Linked DNA regions of Homo sapiens: region 1 is linked to region 2. Evidence: fine-mapped expression QTL. A gene starts in region 2. The other region holds a variant in brackets. All regions are shown on one strand. Distances are between the middles of the regions. Region 1 overlaps LOC107985995 (a long non-coding RNA gene). Region 2 holds the start of SLC16A14 (solute carrier family 16 member 14).

Region 1 (12,042 bases), 31 kb before region 2:
GATGTTAATGAGCGAAAAGAAATCATCTGAAGGAACAAAACTCACTGGTAATAGTAAGGACATAGAAAAACACAGACTATTATAACATTGTAGTTGTGGTGTGTAAACTACTCTTATCTTAAGTAGAAAGACTAAATGATGACCCAATCAAGAATAATAATTACAGTAACTTTTCAAGACATAGACAGTAAAATAAGACATAAAGAGAAACAACAAAAAGTTAAAAAGCAGGAAAATGAAATTAAATTGTAGAGTTTGTATTAGTTTTCTTTTTGTGTGTTTGTTTGGTTGGTTTTTTTATGTAATCAGTGTTAAGTTGCCATCTGTTTAAAATAGTGGGTTATAAAATAGTATTTGCAAGCCTCATGGTAACTTTAAAAGAAAAAGTATACAAACAGTGGATGCGCAAAAAACAAAAAGCAAGAAACTAAATCATACTACCAGAGAAAATCACCTTCACTAAAAAGAAGACATGAAGGAAGGAAAGAAGAAAAAGGAGACCACAAAACAATCAGAAAACAAATCACAAAATGGCAGGAGTAAGCCCCTAGTTGTCAATAATAACATTGAATGTAAATGGACTAAACTCTCTAATCAAAAGACATAAGTGGGTGGATGGATTTAAAAAACAAGACCCATTGATCTGTTGCCTACAAGAAACACATTTCACCTATAAAGATACACATAGACTGAAAATAAAGGTATGTAAAAAGATATTCCATGCCAATGGAAACCAAAAAAGAGCAGGGGCAGCTATATCTATATCAGACAAAATAGATTTCAAGACAAAAACTGTAAGAAGAGACAAAAAAAGGTCATTTGTAATGATAAAGGGGTCAGTCTAGCTACAGGATATAACAATTGTAAATATATGCACCCAACACTGAGGCACTCAGACATATAAAGCAAATATTTACATATTGCTTTATATAAAGCAAATATTTACATATTGCTTTATATAAAGCAAATATTTACATATTGCTTTATATAAAGCAAATATTTACATATTGCTTTATATAAAGCAAATATATGAACAGAACTCTGTATGCTCTCTTTAGCATATAGAGCTAAAGAGAGAGACAGATCTTAATATAATAATAGCTGGAGACTTCAACACCCCACTTTCAGCTTTGGACAGATCTTTCACACAGAAACTCAACAAAGAAACATTGGATGTCATCTGCACTGTAGACCAAATGGACCTAATAGATATTTACAGAACATTTTATCCAACAGCTGCAGAATACACATTCTTCTCTTTAGTACATGGATCATTCTCAAGGATAGAACAGATGTTAGGGCACAAAACAAGTCTTAAAACATTCAAAAAATGGGAATAATATCAAGTATCTTATCTTGATACAGAATTTCTCATAAAACGAGAAGTGAACAACAACAGGAATTTTTGAAACTATATAAACACATGGAAAGTAAGCAATATGTTCCTGAATGACCAGTGAGTCAATGAAATTAACAAGAAAATTGAAAAATTTTCTAAATGAAGGACAATGGCAGCACAACATACCAAAACCTATGGGCTACAATGAAAGCAGTACTAAGAGGGAAATGTATAGCTATAAGCGCCTATGTGACACTTAATATTGAGTGTCAACTTGACTGGATTGAAGGATGCAAAGTATTGTTCCTAGGTGTGTCTGTGAAGATGTTGCCAAAGGAGATTAACATTTGAGTCAGTGGACTAGGAGAGGCAGACCCACCCTCAATCTGGGTGGTCACCGTGTAATCAGCTGCCAGAGTGGCTAGAATAAACCAGGCAGAAGAGTGTGGAAAAGACTTGACTTGCTGAGTCTTCAAGCCTTCATCTTTTCCCCATGCTGGATGCTTCCTGTCCTCAAATATCAGACTCCAAGTTCTTCGGCTTTTGGACTCTTGGACTAACATCAGTGGTTTGCCAGGGTCTCTCAGGCCTTTGGCCACAGACTGAAGGCTGAACTGTTGGCTTCCCTACTTTTGAGGTTTTGGGACTTGGACGGGCTTCCCTGCTCCTCAGCTTGTAGATGGCCTATTATGGGACTTCATCTGTGATCATGTGAGTCAGTACTCCTAATAATACTCCTTTCACCTTCATGGGGAAAGGATTCCTTATTTAATAAATGGTGTTGGGGAAACTGGCTAGCCATATGCAGAAAACTGAAACTGGACCCCTTCCTTACACCTCATCCAAAAATTAACTCAAGATGGATTAAAGACTTAAATGTAAGACCTAAAACCATAAAAACCCTAGAAGAAAATCTAGGCAATACTATTCAGGACATAGGCATGGGCAAAGACTTCATGACTAAAACACCAAAAGCAATGGCAACAAAAGCCAAAATAGACAAATGGGATCTAATTAAACTAAAAAGCTTCTGCACAGCAAAAGAAACTATCATCAGAGTGAACAGGCAACCTAGAGAAAGGGGGGAAATTTTTGCAATCTATCCATCTGACAAACGGTTAATATCCAAAATCTACAAGGAACTTAAACAAATTTACAAGAAAAAAACAAACAACCCCATCAAAAAGTGGGTGAAGGATATGAACAGACACTTCTCAAAAGAAGACATTTATGCAGCCAACAAGCATATGAAAAAAAGCTCATCATCACTGGTCATTAGAGAAATGCAAATCAAAACCACAATGAGATATCATCTCACGCCAGTTAGAAGGGTGATCATTAAAAAGTCAGGGAACAATAGATGCTGGAGAGGATGTGGAGAAATAGGAACACTTTTACACTGTTGTTGGGAGTGTAAATTAGTTCAACCATTGTGGAAGACAGTGTGGCAATTTCTCAAGGATCTAGAACCAGAAATACCATTTGATCCAGCAGTCCCATTATTAGGTACATAGCCAAAGGATTATAAATCATTCTACTATAAAGACACATGCACATGTATGTTTATTGAAGCACTATTCACAATAGCAAAGACTTGGTACCAACCCAAATGTCCATCAATGATATACTGGATAAAGAAAATGTGGCACATATACACCATGGAATACTATGCAGCCACAAAAAAGAGTGAGTTCATGTCCTCTGCAGGGACATGGATGCAGCTGGAAGCCATCATTCTCAGCAAACTAACACAGGAATAGAAAACTGAACATCACATGTTCTCACTCATAAGTGGGAGTTGAACAATGAAAACACATGGACACAGGGAGGGGACCATCACACACCAGGGCCTGTCAGGGGGTGGAGGGTAAGGGGAGAGATAACATTAGGAGAAATACCTAATGTAGATGACGGGTTGATGGGTACAGCAAACCACCATGGCACCTGTATACCTAGGTAACAAACCTGCATGTTCTGCACGTGTATCCCAGAACTTAAAGTATAATAATAAAAAAAATCAACTTAGGCTCCTCAGAAATGAGGTGTTAAGTAGAGAATTTAAAAAAAAAAAAGAACAAAATTAGAGGAATCACATTACCTGACTTCAAATTATGCTACAGAGCTATAGTAACCAGAACAGCATGATACTGTCATAAAAATAGACACATAGACAAATGGAACAGAATAGAGAACCCAGAAACAAATCCACATGCCTATAGTGAACTCATTTTTGACAAAGGCACCAAGAACATACACTGGAGAAAAAACAGTCTCTTCAATAAATGGTGCTGGGAAAAATGGATATCCATATGCAGAAGAATAAAACTAGACCCCTACCTCTCACCATATACAAAAACCAAATCAAAATGGATTAAGAACTTAAATCTAAGACCTCAAACTACAAAATTACTGCAAGAAAACTTTGGGAAAAATCTCTAGGATATTGGCCTTGGAAAAATTTTTTGAACAATACCTCACAAGCACAGGCAACCAAAGCAAAAACAGACAGATGGGTTCACATCAAGTTTAAAAACTTCTGCAAAGCAAATAAAACAATCAACAAAGTGAAAAGACAGCCCACAAAACGAGGGAAAATATTTGCAAAGTGAAAAGACAAACCTACAAAATGGGAGAAAATATCTGGATAAATAACCAGAATATATAAAGAACTCAAACAACTCTATTGGAAAAAATCTAATAACCTGATTCGAAAATGGGTGAAATATTTGAATAGACATTTCTCAAAAGAAGACATACACATGACAATCAGTGCTCAACATCACTGATCATCAGAGAAAAGCAAATCAAAACTACAATGAGAATCATCTCACCCCAATTAAAATGGCTTATATCCTGGTATCAAAACAGACACATAGACCAATGAAACAAAATAGAGATCTCAGAAATAACCATCTGATCTTCAACAAACCTGACAAAAACAAGCAATGGCAAAAGGTCCTCCATTTAATAAATGGTGCTGGGAAAACTGGCTAGCCATATGCAAAAAACTGAAACTGGACCCCTTCCTTACACCTTATACAAAAATTAACTCAAGATGGACTAAAGACTTAAATGTAAAACCCAAAACCATAAAAACCCAAGAAAAAAATCTAGGCATTACTACTCAGTGAATAGGCATGGGCAAAGATTTTATGATGAAATCACCAAAAGCAATTGCAACAAAAGCTAAAATTGACAAATAGGATCTAATTAAACTAAAGAGCTTCTACACAGCGAAAGAAACTATCATCAGAGCAAACAGACAACCTACAGAATGGGAGAACATTTTTACAATCTACCCATCTGACAATGGTCTAATATCCAGAATGTACAAGGAACTTAAAAAAATTTACAAGAAAAAAACAAGCCCATCAAAAAATGGGCAAAGGACATGAACAGACACTTCTCAAAAGAAAACATTCATGTGGCCAACAAACATGAAGAAAAACTGGACATCACTGATCATTAGAGTAATGCAAATAAAAACCACAATGAGATGCCATCTCATGCCAGTCAGAATGGCGATTATTAAAAAGTCAAGAAACAACAGATACTGACAATGCTGTGGAGAAATAGAAATGCCCTTTTTATTGTTGGTGAGATTGTAAGTTAGTTCAACCACTGTGGAAGACAGTGTGGCGATTCCTCAAGGATCTAGAACCAGAAATACCATTTGACCCAGCAATCTCATTACTGGGTATATACCAAAAAGAATATAAATCATTCTATTATAAAGATACATGCACACATATGTTTACTGCAGCACTATTCACAATAGCAAAGACTTGGAACCAACCCAAATGCCCATCAATGATAGACTGGATAAAGAAAATGTGGTACATATACACCATGGAAGATTATGCAGCCATAAAAAGGAATGAGATCATGTCCTTTGCAGGGATATGGATGAAGCTGGAAGCCATCATTCTCAGCAAACTAAGACAGGAACAGAAAACAAAACACCACATGTTCTCACTTATAAGTGGGAGTTGAACAATGAGAACACATGGACACAGGGAGGAGAACAACTCACACTGGGGCATGTCAAGGGGCCAGGGGAAGGAAGAGCATCAGGACTAACAGCTAATGTATGCGGGGCTTAACACCTAGGTGATGGGTTGATAGGTGCAGCAAACCACCATGGCACACATTTACCTATGTAACAAACCTGCATGTTCAGCACACATATCCTGGAACCTAAAATTACATTAACTTTTTTTTAAAAAAGGCTTATATCCAAGACAGGCAATAACAAATTCTGGAAAGGATATGGAGAAAAGGAAACCCTCATACGCTGTTGGTGGGAACGTAAATTAGTACAACCACTAT[G/A]AAGAACAATTTGGAGGTTCCTCAAAAAACTGAAAATATAGCTATCATATGATCCAGCAATTCCACTGCTGGGTATATACCCAAAAGAAAGGAAATCAGTACATTGATTTTCTCATACACTGTTGGTGGGAATGTAAATTAGTACAACCACTATGAAGAACAATTTAGAGGTTCCTCAAAAAACTGAAAATATAGCTACCATATGATCCAGCAATTCCACTGCTGGGTATATAACCAAAAGAAAGGAAATCAGTATACTGAAGAGGTATCTGCACTCCCATGTTTGTTGCAGTACTGTCCACAATAGCCAAGATTTGGAAGCAACCTAAGTGTCCATCAACAGATGAATGGATAAAGAAAATGTGGTACTTACACACAGTGGAATACTACTCGGCCATAAAAAAGAATAAGATTCTGTCAGTTGCAACAACATGGATGGAACTTCAGGTCACTATGTTAAGTGAAATAAGCTGGGCAAGGAAAGACAAACATCGCATATTCTCACTTATTTGTGGGATCTAAAAATCCAAAAAAATTGAACTCATGGTAACAGACAGTAGAAGGGTGGTTACCAGAGGCGGGGAAGGGGAGTGGGGAGTGGTGGGGAAGTGGAGATGGTTAATGGTCACCAAAAAAAATAGTTAGAAAGCATGAATAATACCTAATATTTGATAGCATAACATGGTGACTATAGTCAAAATAATTTAATGGTACATTTTAAAATAACTAAAAGAGTATACTTGGGTTGTTTGTAGCACAAAAAATAAATGCTTGAAGAATTGGATAATCCCATTTTCCATGATGTGATTATTAACATTGGATGCTTGTATCAAAATATGTCATGTCCCCCATAAATATATACACCCATGTACCCACAAAAATCAAAAATAAAAATTTGATTTTAAAAAAAGAATAAATCTTGACCTGTACCTTGAATCATATACAAAATTCAACTTAAATGGATCATAGACCTAAATGTAAAACCAACAACTAAACAACTTCTAGAAGGAAAGAGTCCTGGTGTGGTGGTGGCTCATGATTGTAATCCCAGCACTTTGGGAGGCCAAGGCAGGCAGATCACCTGAAGTCAGGAGTTCGAGACCAGCCTAGCCAACATATAGTGAAACCCCACTGCTACTAAAAAATACAAAAATTAGCTGGGTGTGGTGGTGCATACCTGTAGTCCCAGCTACTTGGGAAGCTGAGGCAGGAGAATGGCTTGAACCTGGGAGGCAGAGGTTGCAGTGAGCTGAGATCGCACCACTGCACTCCTGCCTGGGTGACAGAGCAAGACTCTGTCTCTCAAAAAAAAAAAAAAAAAGAAAGAAAGAAAGAAAAAAGAAAAGTCTTTGCAACCTTAGGTTAGGCAAATGTTGCTTATATAGCAAACGAAAAGCTCAAACCACAGAGTAAAAAAAGTATATTTTCTTTCAAAATTTAAAACTTCAGCTTTTTGAACTCTTACAACTTAACAATAAAAAGAGCTGGGCGTGATGGCACACACCTGTAGTCCCAGCTACTCTGGAAGCTTAGGCAGAAGATTCACTTAAAGACAAGAGTTTGAGGCTGCACTGAGCTAAAATTGTGAAACCGCTCTCCAGCCTGGGCAATGCAGCAAGACTTCATCTCTTAAAAAAATATATAATATAAAGAACCCAGCTTTGTAAAAGGACAAAGGATTTGAATAGACATTTCTCCGAGGAAAACATACATATGCTTTTGGCTAAGAAGACATGAAAAGATGTCCATAATCACTAGCACTAGGGAAATGCAAATTAAAACCACAACGAGATACCACTTCACATCCACTAGGATAGGCAGTATGAAAAGGACAGAGAATAAATAGTACTGGAAGTTCCTCAGAAAGTTAAGCAAAGAATTACTATGTGACCCAGCAACTCGATTCCAACGTATATAGTCAAAAGAAATAAAAACATATATCCACATAAAAACTTGCACATAAGCCCAGCGCATGGCTCACACCTGGAATCCCAGCACTTTGGGAGGCTGAGGTGGACAGATCACTTGAGGTCAGGAGTTTGAGGCCAGCCTGGCCAACATGGTGAAACCCCATCTCTACTAAAAATACAAAAATTAGCCAGGCATGGTGGCACATGCCTGTAATACCAGCTACTCAGGAGGCTGAGGCAGGAGAATCACTTGAACCCAGGAGGCAGAGGTTGCTGTGAGCCGAAATCACACCACTGCATTCCAGCCTGGGCAACAGAGCAAGGCTCGGTCTCAAAAACAAATAAACCCACAAGCTTGTTCACAAATGTTCATAGCAGCATTATGTATAATAGCCATGATCTAAATGTTCAAATGAATAATGAATAAACAAAATGTAATATATCCATGCAATAGAATATTACTGAGCTATAAAAAGGAATAAAGTTCTGATACCTGCTACAATTGGATGAACATTGAACACATTATAACAGAAACCAGAAACAAAGGCCACGTATTATATGATTTTATTTACATGAGATGTCCAGAACAGGCAAATCTATAGAAATACAAGGAAAATTAGTGGTTGCCAGGATCTAGGGAGAGGGGAGAGTAGGCAGTGACTGCTCATAGGTATGATGTTTCTTTTTGGAGTGACAAAAATGTTCTGGAATTAGATAATGGTGATTGCATTGCTTTGTGTATAGATAAAAACAACTAAATAGTACACTTTGAAAGGATGAATTTTATGTTCTGTGAATTATATCTCCTTTTTTTTTTTTAAAAAAAAGCAGATCTTCTAAATTGTCTGGTCTTTGAAATACATTAAGAAAAATGAAAAGATAAGCCAGAGAGTGGGAGGAAATGTTTTCAAATCATAGATCTGATCAAAGAAAGGTAACCAGAATATAAGTAAACTCTCAAAACTCAATGATCAGAAAACAATCCAATTTTCAAAAGCATAGAAAATTTGAACATTTTACCAAAAAAAGTTTAGAAAAAATGCTATCAGCACAGGAAAAAACACTCAACATCATTAAGAAAATATAAATTAAACTACAATAAGAGACCACTCACTACACACCTATTAGAATGTTTAAAACTGTGAGGGAAAATGGCAATATCAAATGTTAGCCAAAATGTGAATCAGCTGGAATGTTCATAGACTTCTGGTGGCAATGTAATATGGCATAACTAGTTTGGAAAACAGTTTGACAGCTTCTTAGAAAGTTAAACATACACTTACCACAGATGACCCGGACATTGCATTCCTAGGTATTGACACAAGAGAAATGAAAATATATGTCCACACGCAAACCTGTACACAAATGTTTACAACAGCATTATTCACTAAAAGTCAAAAACCAGAAACAAGCCAAATATCCATTAATCCATGAATGGATAAACAAATCTTTGTGATATAGTCATACAATGGAATACTACTCAGTAGTAAGAAGGAACAGTTATGCTATAGTAATCCACACAAACACATGCAACGTAGGTAAATCTCAAAGGCATTATACCAACTGTAAGAAGCCAGACACAAAAGAATATCAAGTGTATAATTTCATTTACCTGACATTCTGGAAAAACAAAACTCTAGACAGAACTCATATGAGTGGTTGCCAGGTGTTAGTAGTGACGGCAATTGTTGGGTACAAAAGGGCACAAGGGAACTCTTTTGGTTGGATGGAAATTGTTCTACATCTTCAATGTGGTGGTGGTTACACAACTGTAAACATTCGTCAAATTTCAGAGAACTATGTGCTTCTAAAGGTGATTCTTACCACTCCTATTCATCATAGTACTGAAAGTCCTTGCCAGGGCAATCAGCCATGAGAAAAAAATAAAAAGCATCCAAATATGAAAAGAAGAATTCAAACTATCTTTCTTTGCAGATGATAGGATTCTATTCATTGAAAAGCCTAAAGACTCTGCCAAAAAGCTCCTGGAACTGATAAATGACTTCAGTAAAGTTTCAGGATATAAAAATCAATGTACAAAAATCAGTAGCATTTCTTTACAGCAATAACATTTAAACGTTATTAGCTGGAGCTAAGAGCCAAATCAAGAATGCAATCCCGGCTGCGCGCGGTGGCTCATGCCTGTAATCCCAGCACTTTGCGAGGCTGAGGAGGGCAGACCACCTGAAGTCAGGAGTTTGAAACAAGCCTGTCTCTACTAAAAATATGAAAATTAGCTGGTGTGGTGGTGCGTGCCCGTAATTCCAACTACTCAGGAGGCCAAGGCATGGGAATCACTTGAACCCTAGAGGAGGAGTTGCAATGAGCAGAGATCATGCCACTGTACTTCAGTCTGGGTGACAGAGTAAGACTGTCCAAAAAAAAAGCAATCCCATTACAATAGCCACACAAAAAAATAGAATACCCAGGAATACATCTAACCAAGGAAGTGAAAGGTCTTTACAAGGAGAACTACAAAACACTGCTAAAAGAAATCACAGATGAGACAAACAAATGGAAAATATTCCGTGCTCATGGATTGCAAGAATCAGTATCATTAAAATGGCCTTATTATTGCCCAAAGCAATCTACAGATTCAATGCTATTTCTATCAAACTACCAAGGTTATTTTTCACAGAATTAGAAAAAACTATTCTAAAATTCATATGGAACCAAAAAAATAGCCTATATAACCAAAGCAATTCTAAGCAAAATGTACAAAGCCAGAAGCATCACATTAATCCACTTCAAACTATACTATAAGGCTACAGTAACCAAAACAACATGGTACTGGTACAAAAATAAACAGATAGGCCAATGGAACAGAAAAGAGAACTCAGAAATAAAGCCACACACCTACAGCCATCTAATCTTTGACAAAATCAACAAAAATAAGCAATGGGAAAAGAAGTCCCTATTCAATAAATGGTGGTGGGATACAGGCTAGCCATATGCAGAAGAATGAAGTTGGACCCCTACCTTTCACCATTTATAATAACTAACTCAAGATGGATTAAAGATTTAAATGTAAGACTTCAAACTATCAGAATCCTAGAAGAATATTTACGAAGCACCATTCTGGACATGGGCCTTAGGAAAGAATTTATTACTAAGATCTCAAAAGCAATTGCAAAAAAAAAAACACCAAAAATTGACAAGTGGTATCTAATTAAACTAAAAAGCTTCTGCACACCAAAAGAAATAGTCAACTGAGTAAACAGACAACCTACAGACTGGGAGAAAATATTTGCAAACTATGCATCCAACAAAGGTCTCATATCCCGAATCTATAGGAACTTAAACAATTGAACTAGCAAAAAACAAATAATTCCATTAAAAAATGGGCACAAGACATGAACAGACACTTCTCAAAAAATGGCATACAAGTGGACAACAAACACATAGAAAAATGCCGATCATCACTAATCATTGGAGAAATGCAAATCGAAACCACGATGAAATGCCATCTGACACCTGTCAGAATGGCTATTATTACAAAGTCAAAAAACAACAAATATCGTTGAGGCCGCAGAGAAAAGGGAATGCTTCTACATTGCTAAAGGGAATGTAAATTAGTTCAGCCACTGTGGAAAGCAGTTTGGAGACTTCTCAGAGAACCAAAAGTAGAGCTACCATTCGACCCAAGCAATCTCATTACTGGGTATGTATCCAAAACAAAACAAATCATTCTACCAAAAAGACACATGCACTTTGCAATTCGTGCAGCACTATTCACAATAGCAAAGTTATGGAATCAACCTAGGTGCCCATCAACAGTGTACTGGATAAAGAAAATGTGGCACATATACACCATGGAATACTATACAGCCATAAAAAATGAAATCATGTCCTTTGCAGCAACATGAATACAGCTGAGTACCTGGGTGACAGGATAATTCATACCCGAACCTCAGCAACATGCAATATACCCAGGTAGCAAACCTGCGCATGTACCCCCCCGGATCTAAAATAAAGGTTGGAAAAGGGAAAAAAAAGGTGATTTTTTTCCCGTATGTAAATTATATCTCAACAAATTTGATTCTTAAAAAATGAACTAGGTTATTCTAATACATCTCCTCCCACAAAAGAAAACACTAAAATTTATTTTTAAAAATTTTGTATAGATACTCCATGGTGGAATTGTTAGATCAAATGGTAATCCTACTTTCAGTTCTTTAAGGAACCTCTAAACTGTTTCCATGGTGGTTGTACTAGTTTACATTCCCCCTAGCAGTGTAAAAGTGTTCCCTTTTTACCACATCCATGCCAGCATCTATTATTTTTTGATTTTTTAATTATGGCCATTCTTGCAGGGTAAGATGGTATCTCATTATAGTTTTAATTTGCATTTCTCTGATAGCTAGTGATGTTGAGCTTTTTTTTATACGTTTGTTGGCCATTTGTATACCTTCTTTTAAGAATTGTCTATTCATGTCCTTTGCCCAATTTTTGATGGGTTATTTG
Region 2 (12,042 bases):
CTGATCTTGTATGCTGCAACTTTGCTGAATGCACTTCTTAAGTCCTATTCTTGTTAGTGGATTCCTTATGTTTTCTGTATATAAATCATATATCTGAAAATAGAGGTAATTTTATTTTCTTCTTTCTATTCTGGATGCCCTTTATTTCTTTTTTTAATTTTTAATCTTTTATTTATTTATTGCCTAATTCCCCTGGTTAGAATCTCTAGTACTATATTGAATAGGAATGTCAAAAGTGGATATCCTTATCTTGTTCCTGATCTTTAGGGGAAAGCATTCAATCTTTCACCATCAAGTATGATGTTAGCTGTGAGTTTTTGTAGATGCCTTTTATCAGGTTGAGGAAGTACCCTTCAATTGCTAGTCTGTTGTGTGTTTTTTTTAGTCATGAAAGGGTGTTGTATTTTGTCAAATACTTATTCTGTATATATTAAGATGATCATGTTATTTTGATTTTTTCCTTTTTTAAAATGTTTATTTATTTATTTATTTATTTGTTTATTTTTGAGAAAGAGTCTCGCTCTATCGCCCAGGCTGGAGTGCAGTGGCATGATCTCAGTTCACTGCAACCTCCGCTTCCTGGGTTGAAGCGATTCTCCTGCCTCAGCCTCTTGAGTAGCTGGGACTACAGGCACGTGCAACCACACCCGCCCAGATACTTTTTGTATTTTTAGTACAGAAAAGGTTTCACCATGTTGGCCAGGCTGGCCTTGAACCCCTGACCTCAAGTGATCCACCTGCCTTGGCCTCCCAAAGTGATGGGATTATAGGCGTGAGCCACCGCACCGGGCTGTTTTTCATTTTGTTGTTTTGTTGTTGTTGTTGTTGTTGTTTTAGATCTTGCTCTTTTGCACAGGCTAGAGTGCAGTGGTGGGATCAAAGCTCACTGTAGCCCCAAGCAGTCCTCCCACCCCATCCTCCTGAGTCACTAGGACTATAGGCCCACACCTCATCCTTTATTCTATTGATACTATCTATCACATTAACTGATTTTCAAATACATACCAACCTTGCATTCCTGGGATAAGTCCCACTTGGTCATAGTGAGCTCATTATTTTTATTTATTTATTTATTTATTTTAAAGACAAGGTCTTGCTTGGTTACCAAGGCTGGAGTGCAGTGGCACCATCATAGTTCACTGTAACCTCAAACTCCTGCGCTTAAGCAATCCTCCCACCTCAGCCTCCTGAGTAGCTGGGACTACAGGTGCATGCCACCACACCCAGCTGTTATTTTTAATTTTTATTTTGTAGAGATGGGGCCTCACTATTGAGGTTGCCCAGGCAGATATTGAACTCCTGCCCTCAAGCAGTCACCCTGCCTTAGCCTCCCACAGTGCTGGGATTACAGGGGTGAGCCACTATGCCTGGCTAAGTTAATTGATTTTAATAATTAAATAAGTGTCCACGAAGCCAGCACAACAAGGCACATCTAATCATACCCATCCCTTCTCCCTGTCATCCCTGACCTAAGTCCCATGTTCATCTTTCCTTGCTTCTCTTTTTGGATAGTTGCACTGCACCTAGATGCATTCCAAAAATATTTGGTTTAAGTTTTGTAATTTTGCATAAAGAGTATTATGCTTTTTTCTGCTTAATATGTAATTTCTAAGATTCAAACATATGGTGTATTAATGGAGTTGATCCTTTTGATTGCTGTATAATATTCCATTGTATGACTACTATGTATGCCACATTAAAATAGTAATTATGTATCCCATGTAACTATGTATCCCATGTAACTATTAAAAGTAGTAACTATTAAAAGAGTAACTATGTATGCCATATTAAAATAGTAACAGGTCCAAATCTGAACTCCTAATATCTCCCCCAAACAAGCTCCTCCTGCAGTCTTCCCATCTTTGTTAATGTCAGCTCCATTCTTCCAATCACTTAGCCAAAACCTTGGAGTCATCCTTGACTCCTCTTTCTCTCACACATTCAATCTGAAAGCAAATCCTACAACTCTGCCTCCAAAGTATATTCAGATCCAATTTTGTTTTACAACCTTCATTGCCACTTCTATGGTCCCAGTAGCCATTGTCTCTCCCTTGGATTATTGTAGTCAGCCTCCCAAGTAGCGGGATTACAGGCATGCACGGCCACGCCCAGCTAACTTTTGTATTTTTAGTAGAGACAGGGTTTCATCATGTGGGCCAGGCTGGTCTCAAACTCCTGGCTTCAAGTGATCCACCTACCTCAGCCTCCCAAAGTACTGGGATTACAAGCGTGAGGCACCATGCCCAGCCCCCCCTGCTCAACTCTCCAGTGGCTTCCTGTCTCTGAATAAAAGCCAGTTTTTTTCCTGTGATTTTCAAGGCTTTAGGGTGACCTACAGACACTTCCCTCTGCCTTGTGGACTTTGTACCTGCTACTCTTCCTGCTAGGATGAGCTTCCTCCTGTCATTCTCATGGCTCATTCCAGCACTTCTTATTGATGCTTTCTCTCTCCCTTCTAAAGTTTCCCATCACAATAACCCTTCAATTTCCCTGTCCTTGCCTAATTTTTTTCTTAGTGCTTATTACTAATTGTATATATATGTATGTATATATATACATATATATAGAGAGAGAAATAAATACACATACACATATATGCATTACATATATATAACTTGTTTTTCTTGCTCACTGGAACATATACTTAGTGCAGAAAAGCATTTGTGTTGGTTTTGTTCATTGCTGTATCCCCAGCACTTCATAAAATCACATCATACACGTTCAGCAAATATTTGTTGAATGAAAAAATAAATGAATAGCTGAAAAGTAACTACTAGCACATATGGTTCATGGATAAAGCATAAAAATGAGGCCTTGCTGAAATCTGAAATTTATGAGGCACCCAGAAGCCATGACCAATGTCATCTCAGTGTGGTGGTTCTTATGAGACTCCAGGCTGCTGAAGGCTGCTATCAGCCCTGCAACCTCCTTCTGTCCCCATAAGCCATGCTGAAGTCCAAAATCCCTGGAGGCTGGTTTGGCAGCAGGCCAAGACTGAAGATACCTGCCAAGACCAGATGTAACCAAGGTCCCCACTTGGTAAAAGCATCTGCACTTACGGAAAGATAAATCCAGTCACAGGGAGAATCCTGGGGGGGCACAGACTGACCCACCAAGCCAAGAGGTGGCACGGATTTGGGCACAGCACTGGATTTCTGGCCCTGTGTAAGAGAAAGCATTTCCTTCCTCCTTCATAAAACTTTGCCTGGCTGTGCAGCGTGTGGCTTGCCCTGTGATTTCTGAGCACACTTGCATTTCAGGCACTTGTGTTCTGGATTCTAGTCTTTGATCTCCCACATTAAACTCAGAGGAGTGGGGAACAGGGCCATACTGAGAGACAGAGGATATTCTTGGTGACCATGTGGGTTGTGGGTCATCTTTACATCTGGGCTGGCTACAACAATGAGGCAGTCACGGTGACACTTTAAGGCATTTCTCTAACCCCTTCAATGTTCTGTGCTAGCAACTTTCTCAAAAGCTAATTCTATCCCACTCTGTGCCTATTCTACACCATTAAACCACCAAAATTAAGGCAAAGATTGTCCAAATTCTCAGTTTCACCCCAACTCCAAGGTGGGATTATGAAATCAATTGAGTACATGATTAGAACTAAGAGAGGAGGCTTTTACAGGCAGCATGTGAATTAGTTTACATTCTTAAGATGTAAGGTTGTTAGCTAATGCAATTCAATTAAAGGTAAGATTGCTATTGAGAGAAAATATATAATTTGCCTAAAAATCAAGGGAGAATGTCAGGTTTCTCTACTTCAGATACATGAAAAGAGTTTAGCGCTTATATTTTACATTCTAATTGAAGATGGATTTTTTTTTTTTTTGAGACAGAGTGTCGCTGTGTCACCCAGGCTGGAGTGCAATGGCGCTATCTTGTCTCACTTCAACCTCCGTCTCCTGGGTTCAAGCAATTCTCCTGCCTCAACCTCCTGAGTAGCTGGGATTACAGGCACCCACCACTACGCCCTGCTAATTTTTGTATTTTTAGTAGAAATGGGTTTTCACCGTGTTGGCCAGGCTGGTCTCAAGCTCCCGACCTCAGGCGATCCGCCCACCTCGGACTCCCAAAGTGCTGGGATTACAGGCATGAGCCACTGCGCCTGGCCTGATAGTGGATTTCTATTTATTTAACCCAGACATACCAACTTATGGGTCACAGTCCTCTTTGCTTTGGGCCTGTCCTCAATCCACCTGTGTCACTGAGAGACCAACAGACAGGTAAGAGCAGTGAAACTTATGAAGACAAAATAATTGATCAGAAAAGCCTTCATGGTCCAGAGTAGAAGCTTCTCAGAGAGCCAATTAAAGACTGCCTGGGTGTGTGGAGGTGGGACAAGGATTACAAAGCAGCACAAGGAAAATTTTGGAGTCATTTGATTGAGGTGGTAGTTCCATAGACGTGCTGTAACTCATCGAATTGTACACTAAATATGCATAGTTCATACGAGATCCATCCTACCTCCATATGCTGAAACTCATCAAATTGGACACTAAATATGCACAGTTCATATGAGATCCATCATACCTCCATAAGTGGGCAAGTTTTCAGAGAAAAAAAAAACAGACTTAAAAATCTTACAGACTTCTTTTCCAACAAAATGGATCATCGGCAATTGAAGTGCTTGTCAGGAACCCTAATCTTGCTGTCAAAAGCCTGCTTGAAATGAGTGGATATGAGAGGCACCGCCCAAGGGAACACTAACCATCCAGTTGCCCGTGTTCTTATCAGCAAAAGTAAGATATGTAAACCACTGAAGCCTAGCACCTCATCAAAATGCCCTCACTTGGCCACAATTTCTCACAATTTTCTCAAAATTTTTTTTTCTTTTTTTTTTTTGAGACAGAGTCTCACTCTGTTGCCTAGGCTGGAATGCAGAGGCACGATCTCAGCTCAAGGTTCAAGCGATTCTCGCCTCCCAGATTCAAGCAATATCGTGCCTCAGCCTCCCAAGCAGCTGGAATTACAGGCAGGCGCCACCACACCCAGCTAATTTTTGTGTTTTTAGTAGAGACGGGGTTTCACCATGTTGGCCAAGCTGGTCTTGAACTCCTAGCCTCAAGTGATCCACCCGCCTTGGCCTTCCAAAGTGCTGGGATTACAGGCGTGAGCCACTGTGCCCAGCCTCAATAATTTTTAAATCAAGAGTTGATATAAGATTAGCTGGGCATGGTGGCACGCTCCTATAACCCCAGCTACTTGGGATGCTGAGGCAGGAGAATTGCTTGAACCTGGGAAGCAGATGTTGTAGTGAGCCAAGATTGCCACTGCACTCTAGCCTGGGTGACAGAGTGAGATTCCATCTCAAAAAAAAAAAAAAAAAAAAAGAGAGACAGAATTGATATAAGAAATAGCAATATAGGCCGGGTGCAGCGGCTCATGCCTGTAATCCCAGCACTTTGGGAGGGTGAGGCAGCCAGATCACTTGAGTCCAAAAGGTCAAGACCAGTCTGGGCAATATAATGAGACTCCGTCTCTATAAAAAGTCAAAAAAATTAGCCAGGCATGGTGGCGTGTGCCTGTAGTCCCAGCTACTCAGGAGGCTGAGGTGGGAGGATCACCTGAGCCCAGGAGGTTGAGGCTGCAATGAGCTGTGATCATGCTACTGCACTCCAGCTTGGGTGACCGAGGAAGGCAATGTGAAATACATGTGAATTTTTTTTCAAAGAAACGAAAAAGAAGGAAGAAAAGAAAAAGGAAAAGAAGAAAGAAGGAAATCTGTGGTAGGCAGAATAATGGTCTCCCAAAGATGTCCACATCCTAATCCCTGGAACATGTGAATTTGTTACCTTACATGGCAAGAGGGGAATTAAGGTTGCAGATGGAATTAAGGTTGCTAATCAGCTGACCTTAAAATAGAGAGATTATCTGGATTATCTCATTGGACTCAATGTAATCCCCAGGGTCCTTAAAAGTGGACAGGGGTGGGGGCAGAAAAGGGGAGACAAGGCAATGTGAGTATGGAAAGAAGACAAAATGACGCAGCAGTGCTGGCTTTGAAGATGGAGGAAGAGCCACCAGCCAAGGAATGTGGGCGGCCTGCAGAAGCTGGTGGCTCTCCCCTACAGCCACGAGAAGGAACACAGCCTTCAAGGTGGCCAACACCATGATCTCAGCCTAGTATGACCCATTTCAAACTTCCGACCTCCAGAACTGTAAAATAGTGAATTTGTGTGGTTTTCCTCTGCTATTACTGTGGCAGTTTATCACAACAGCAGCAGAGAATTACTGCAAAACCTTCAGGCGGGAAAAAACAGCACAGGCTTCATCGACTCACACATTCACTTCAATAATACAGAAAACTGTCCAAGGCAAAGCACTATGTTGTGTGCCCTGCTGGGAATGAGGTAGGGAGGTATTGAGATGAAAGTTGTGCCTGGTGCCCACGAAGGTAGGTAATGGACGTGCAGAAAGAGCAGGGAGAGGTGGGACCCAGGGTGGAAACAAGAATGAGGGACTGGCCGGTCACGGTGGCTCAGCTTGTGATCCCAGCACTTTGGAGGCCAAGGCCAGAGGATTCCTTGAGTCCAAGTGTTCGAGACCAGCCTGGCAATATAGTGAAACCCGTGTCTCTAAAAGAGAGAGAATAAGGGACTTTGAGTCCTCTTTGGCCAAAAATATTTCAGTGAGGGTCTGTTTCATCCCTTCTCTCCCATCTCAGAGAAATGGAGGCTACTGCTAGTCTCACTTGCATCCTGGATTAGATTTCAGGACCTTTCCGCCAGTGATAAATGTGCAGCGCCTTAGCGGAACCTCAGCCAAAGCTATAAACTTCAACCGGCCACAAGAGTGTGCATGTGAGGTGACTGCATTTTTTTTCCCTGCCAAACCAGAATTAGCCGGTATAGGAATGAACGAGCATGAAGATTTGAAATTGCTCCGATTGGAAGGAAGCCCAGGTTAGGTTTGGGCACCTCCAAACGCACCCGTTTTAAAGCCACCTGGACTGAGGCGTCGAGCTTTCAGCTCCACCAAACGCTCACCTGGCCTGGCAGCGAGCGGCGGAAGAGCCCGGGAGCCCCTCACAGAGCGCACCGAGCCGGGCGGAGAGCTGAGCCGCAGGCACCCGCGTCTCCAGGATGATAGGCGACATTGCAACAAATCTCTACACCCAGCAGCTCAGGGGGCTCCAAGCAGAGCAGCAAGTTCGAGGATCCGGGCGTGGAGCCGAGTGAGGCCGCAGCCCAGCGGGCCTCGGGCGGTGAGTATCCGAGGCCGCGCGCGCCGCGGGCCTGGGGAATGGAGCGACGCCGGGGGCATCGGAGCCTAGGTTTCAGATGGCCGCTGCACCCCCAGGGACCCCCGGGAAGGGGCAGCCCCAGCCCAAGGCAGGCTCGGGAAAGGCTGCCCGGGCGGTGGAGGGCGAGACTGTGCCGGGGCAGGTGGTAGTGCCAAGGCCGCCGCGGGGGCTTGGGAGCTGCGGGCGGGCAGGGTAACCGGCGGTTCAGGGCAGACCGCCAGGCGGAGCTTGGGGACGCGCGCCTTGCTGCTCAAGCTGGCCGGGGCCCCGCGAGCGTCATCCTGGGCACCCCCGTCCGGCTGGAGAAGCGCGTTCTGCCCGGAGCCCAGCCTCGCTGCCCGGCTGCTCTCTAGGCCCGTTTGGGACTCGAACTGGACAGTGATGAGGCGCAGAGCGGGGGACCCGGGGCTGCGCCTAGGGACTTCGCGGGGTGCGGATGCCTCTCTGCACAGGCTGTGGTGCTGCAGCCGGCCCAGCTTCCCCGGTGGGCTGCTGGCTTCCGAACGCGCCGAGGGATGCGGGGTGCCCGAAGTGGGGATGTGGTCTCGGGGTGCCAAGGGAGCGGGAGCACCGAGCGCGGGTGGGGGCGGGCGCTCGAAGGGTGGGGCGCGAGGCCGGACCCCGCGGGCACGATCCCGCACCCAGGGCGCGCAGAGGCTGGGCCCCCTTAGCGCTTCCGATTGAGGCTCCTCAAGAGAGGCTGAAATGGGGTGAGAGACCGGGGACGGCCATTTCGGGGCTAAACGCTGCCAAGGCCATGACGATGTTTTAGGAGCTGAACTCTGCTTTCCAATTAAGCCATTTTCTTTCTGAGGAAAAGTTGATTCGGGCTCATTAACAAGGATGACTGAGGGCCATTATTGGGGCTTAGAGAGATTCTCCTTTGCCTTGTCTGGCTTCTTTGTTTGCATGTGCGTGCGTGTGCGGCTGTGTGTGTGTGTGTGAGAGAGAGAGAGAGAGAGAGAGAGAGAGAGAGAGAGAAGAGAGGGGAGAGAGGCAGTGTTGGGGGTGGGAGGAGGTAAAACAGGCTTGGGATCCTGCAGGCCTGGGTTCCGATTTGGTTTCCACAGCCTGCTAGTTTAACCTTTCTAAGCTTCATTGCTCCCATTTGATGGCTCAGATTCTTCCTCTGTAAAATGCGGACATTCATGCCAATTGGACTGGAGGAGAAGCCACCAAGCACAGTCCCTGACCCAGAGCGAAGCATGTATGTGTTGAGTCCTCCTAATTCGGTGTGAATTTTTCGGTTCTGTTTTTCTCCTATGCTGTCTGCACCAGCTCAGCTCAGCTCCGCTCCCCAGCCTTCTCCGCGGCAGCCTCTTCAGCCTGCTGGCCGCAAGTGCGCCCTCTAAAGGCCCCAAATGCCCTGTACACACCAGGTGAAGAGCGCGGAAGCGCCTGCAGAGCAGAATTAAAGGTGAAGCCCGCACTCACCTGCGTGGGATGCAGAGCCGCTACCACCACGCTCTGCGTAGCTTTGGGGAAGACTGTAATTTCAATTTTAGCTTCGTGCTTCCCGCTTTCCTTATGTGTAATGAGCTCACCACATGCAATGTAATAACAATAGCCAAATTAAAAATGAATGACTTGGCCCAGCGCGGTGGCTCATGCCTGTAATCCCAGCATTTTGGGAGGCCGAGGCGGGTGGATCATCTGAGGTCAGAGTTTCGAGACCAGCCTGGCTAACATGGCGAAACCCCTTCTCTACTAAAGATACTAAAGATGCAGTGGCACACACCTGTAGTCCCAGCTACTCGGGAGGCTGAGGCAGGAGAATCGCTTGAACTCGGGAGGCGGAAGTTGCAGTGAGCCGAGATCTCACCAGTGCACTCCAGCCTGGGCGACAAAGCCATACTCTGTCAAAAAAAAAAAAAAAATGACTTGCTTGTAAAACTTTCTACGCTGCTGTAGAAAATTTAATTTTGTTCTAATATCTGAAACACCCTAGAAGGATCTGTTATTTTCATTTCTGCCTATTATCACGTAAATATGTAGCTGACCCAGTTTCATAGCCTATATATGTTACCCCCCATTTACAATTTCTTTTTCATCGTCTATGAACTCATTTGGGGAGAATGGAAGGCTGACTATTGCTCCCGTAATCTTCCCATTTTCTTATTTCACCCTCTTCATAACGAAGCCCTAATATTTTTTGTCAAGCTTCCAATAGCAAGCTTGCTTAGAGTGGGTTACCTTTTACTTTTTTTTTTTCTTGAGGTAGTCTCGTTCTATCATCCAGGCTAGAGTGCAGTGGCACCATCTCAGCTCACTGCAACCTCCATCTCCCAGGTTCAAGCAATTCTGCTGCCTCAGCCTCCTGCATAGCTGTGAGTATAGGTGCGCACCACCACACTGGCTAATTTTTGTATTTTTAGCAGAGAAGGGATTTCACCATGTTGGCCAGGCTGGTCTCAGACTCCCGACCTCAAGTGATCCATCCCCCTCAGCCTCCCAAAGTGCTGGGATTACAGGCATGAGCCACCGTGTTCTGCCACATTTTACATATTAATCCTTAGCAGAAGCCCCACATTCACTGCCTCAGGGTGCCACATGCATATCGTCATTTTACATGTATGTCAGGATGTAGAAAATGTAAGGGAGCTTGAAGGCCCTATGGTGGTCAAAGACATGGAGCCTAGGGGTACAGATACACCCTCTAAGTTCTCCCTCTCCAGGTGTGGAGTAGGATTATAATACTAAAATTATTCTTATATCTTATATAAATACATATATAATTATACATGTATATAATTATATGAATGCTACAAGCAATCTTGGAGTTGGAGGGATAAACATTTGTTTTTCTGTTGTCTTTTGTTTTCATTAACTAGTTGGTCTAGAAGTTAACCATGAGTAGTCAAAACAGTAATTACTTTTGGAGAGATTTAAGTGTGAAATACAACTGACTCCATTGCTCAGCAGATCTATAGGGGCCTCCTGAGGATCCAAAAGAACTTTTTGGGCCAGGCATGCTGGCTCACGCCTGTAATCCCAGCACTTTGAGAGGCCAAGGCAGGTGGATCACTTGAGGTTAGGAGTTCCAGACCCGCCTGACCAACATGGTGAAACTCCATCTCTACAAAAATACAAAAATTATCTGGCATGGTGGTGCACACCTGAAGTCCCAGCTACTCAGGAGGCTGAGACAGGAGAATCGCTTAAACCTGGAAGGTAGAGGTTGCAATGAGCCGAGATCATGCCACTGCACTCCAGCCTGGACAACAGAGTAAGACTCCATCTCAAAAAAAAAAAGAACTTTTTTACTATATTCTACATGCACCCTTGTGCCTCATGAATAAAATTTGTCCATTAAATGCTATTCAGTGTCACTTATTTATGAACAAACTGGAAATATCAAGAGCAGTTTGTTGGCACCTACATCTCTTCACCCATAAATAATTCAGTAAGAATATAAAGTTCTTATCATTGATTTAGAAAAGTGCTTAATATTTCAACACACGGGCTGAAAAACTATAACTTTTTCCTGTTGTTGTTTGTTTGTTTTGAGATGGAGTTTCACTCTTGTTGCCCAGGCTGGAGTGCAATGGTGCGATCTCGGCTCACTGCAACCTCTGCTTCCCAGGTGCAAGAGATTCTCCTGCTTCAGCCTCCCGAGTAGCTGGGATTACAGGCATGCGCCACCACACCCGGCTAATTTTGTAGTTTTAGTAGAGACAGGGTTTCTCCATGTTGGTCAGGCTGGTCTCACACTCCCGACCTCAGGTGATCCGCCTACCTCGGCCTCCCAAAGTGCTGGGATTACAGGCATAAGCCACCACGCCCGGCCTAAAAAACTCTAACTTTTAAATTTGTATTACTTCAAAGCCTTCCTTGGTTGTAAATGAACTTCAGGAAAATGCCATGTATTGTTGTTTCATCACATTAAACATAGCTGAGCATTTTCCCATGGACAGCAAAATGACATTTTTATGAGCTATTCACACCTTGTGTCAAGCTGCCTGGTTCTCCTGTTTCTGGCTCCTCAGGATTCTGCACACAACAGAGGCAGAGGGAAGACACTCACCAACCATCCCTTCTGAACCCTCTCTGGGCTCATCCACTGGCCCTTTGACAATGCAGCTCTGCACTGCGCTGTAAGCTTTGGAGAGCAAGGGCTGCCCCATCCCTTTCTAGCCCCAAGCAGGCTCAGACATTGGGAAGGGGACAGATACATGCATACACAGACACACACACACACACATACACACACACACACACACACACACAGACAAGGCTGAAACCCAAGACATACTGGAAGACTTCCCAATAGAGGTCATCTTGTTTTGTTTTCTCTTTTACAAGTCAGCCACTAATTTACCTGGAGGTAAGAGGCTGATCCAGACAATATTTTAAAGGTAGCTTTTATTTTCTTATAATACAGGTAATATATATCTATTGAGGAACTTTTTTTTTTTTTTTGAGACAGGGTCTCACTTTGTCTCCCAGGCTGGAGTGCAGTGGCATGATCACAACTCACTGCAGCCTGAACCTCCCAGGCTCAAGCAATTCTCCCACCTCTGCCTCCAGGTAGCTGGGACCACAAGTATGCGCCACCACATGTGCCTGGCTAATTTTTATTTACGGAGATGAGGTCTCACTGTTGTCCAGGCTGGTCTTAAACTCCTGAGCTCAAGTAATCCTCCTACCTCAGCCTCCCAGATTGCTGGGATTACAGGCATGAGCCACCACACCTGGCATATTGAGGAAATTTCTCACCACTAAGATAGTAGAAAGAAGCGGGAAATTACTGGTAAGACCATCATTCAAAGAATAATCTCCATCAACATTTTTCT

The links. PIP is the estimated chance that this variant, and not a neighbour inherited with it, causes the effect. A credible set is the group of variants that fine-mapping cannot tell apart.
Region 1: its variant is the best candidate, but not a certain one, in a credible set for the expression of SLC16A14 in nasal epithelium (TOPMed, PIP 0.73).

What each region holds. Positions count from the first base shown.
Region 1 is chr2:230,094,879-230,106,920 of GRCh38, reverse strand. All of the region lies in intron 2 of LOC107985995 (a long non-coding RNA gene), which reads right to left. Among named protein-coding and RNA genes, the nearest start is that of SLC16A14, 32 kb to the right of the region's middle. The variant G/A (reference allele first, on the strand shown) is at 5,669.
Region 2 is chr2:230,063,723-230,075,764 of GRCh38, reverse strand. SLC16A14 (solute carrier family 16 member 14) reads left to right here and starts at 6,841. Exons shown (of 5, transcript NM_152527.5): 1 at 6,841-7,210. LOC107985995 (a long non-coding RNA gene) reads right to left here and starts at 9,026. Exons shown (of 6, transcript XR_001739918.2): 1 at 8,988-9,026. RefSeq lists enhancers at 6,778-6,837, 6,848-6,967, 7,363-8,133 and silencers at 7,198-7,467, 7,738-7,987.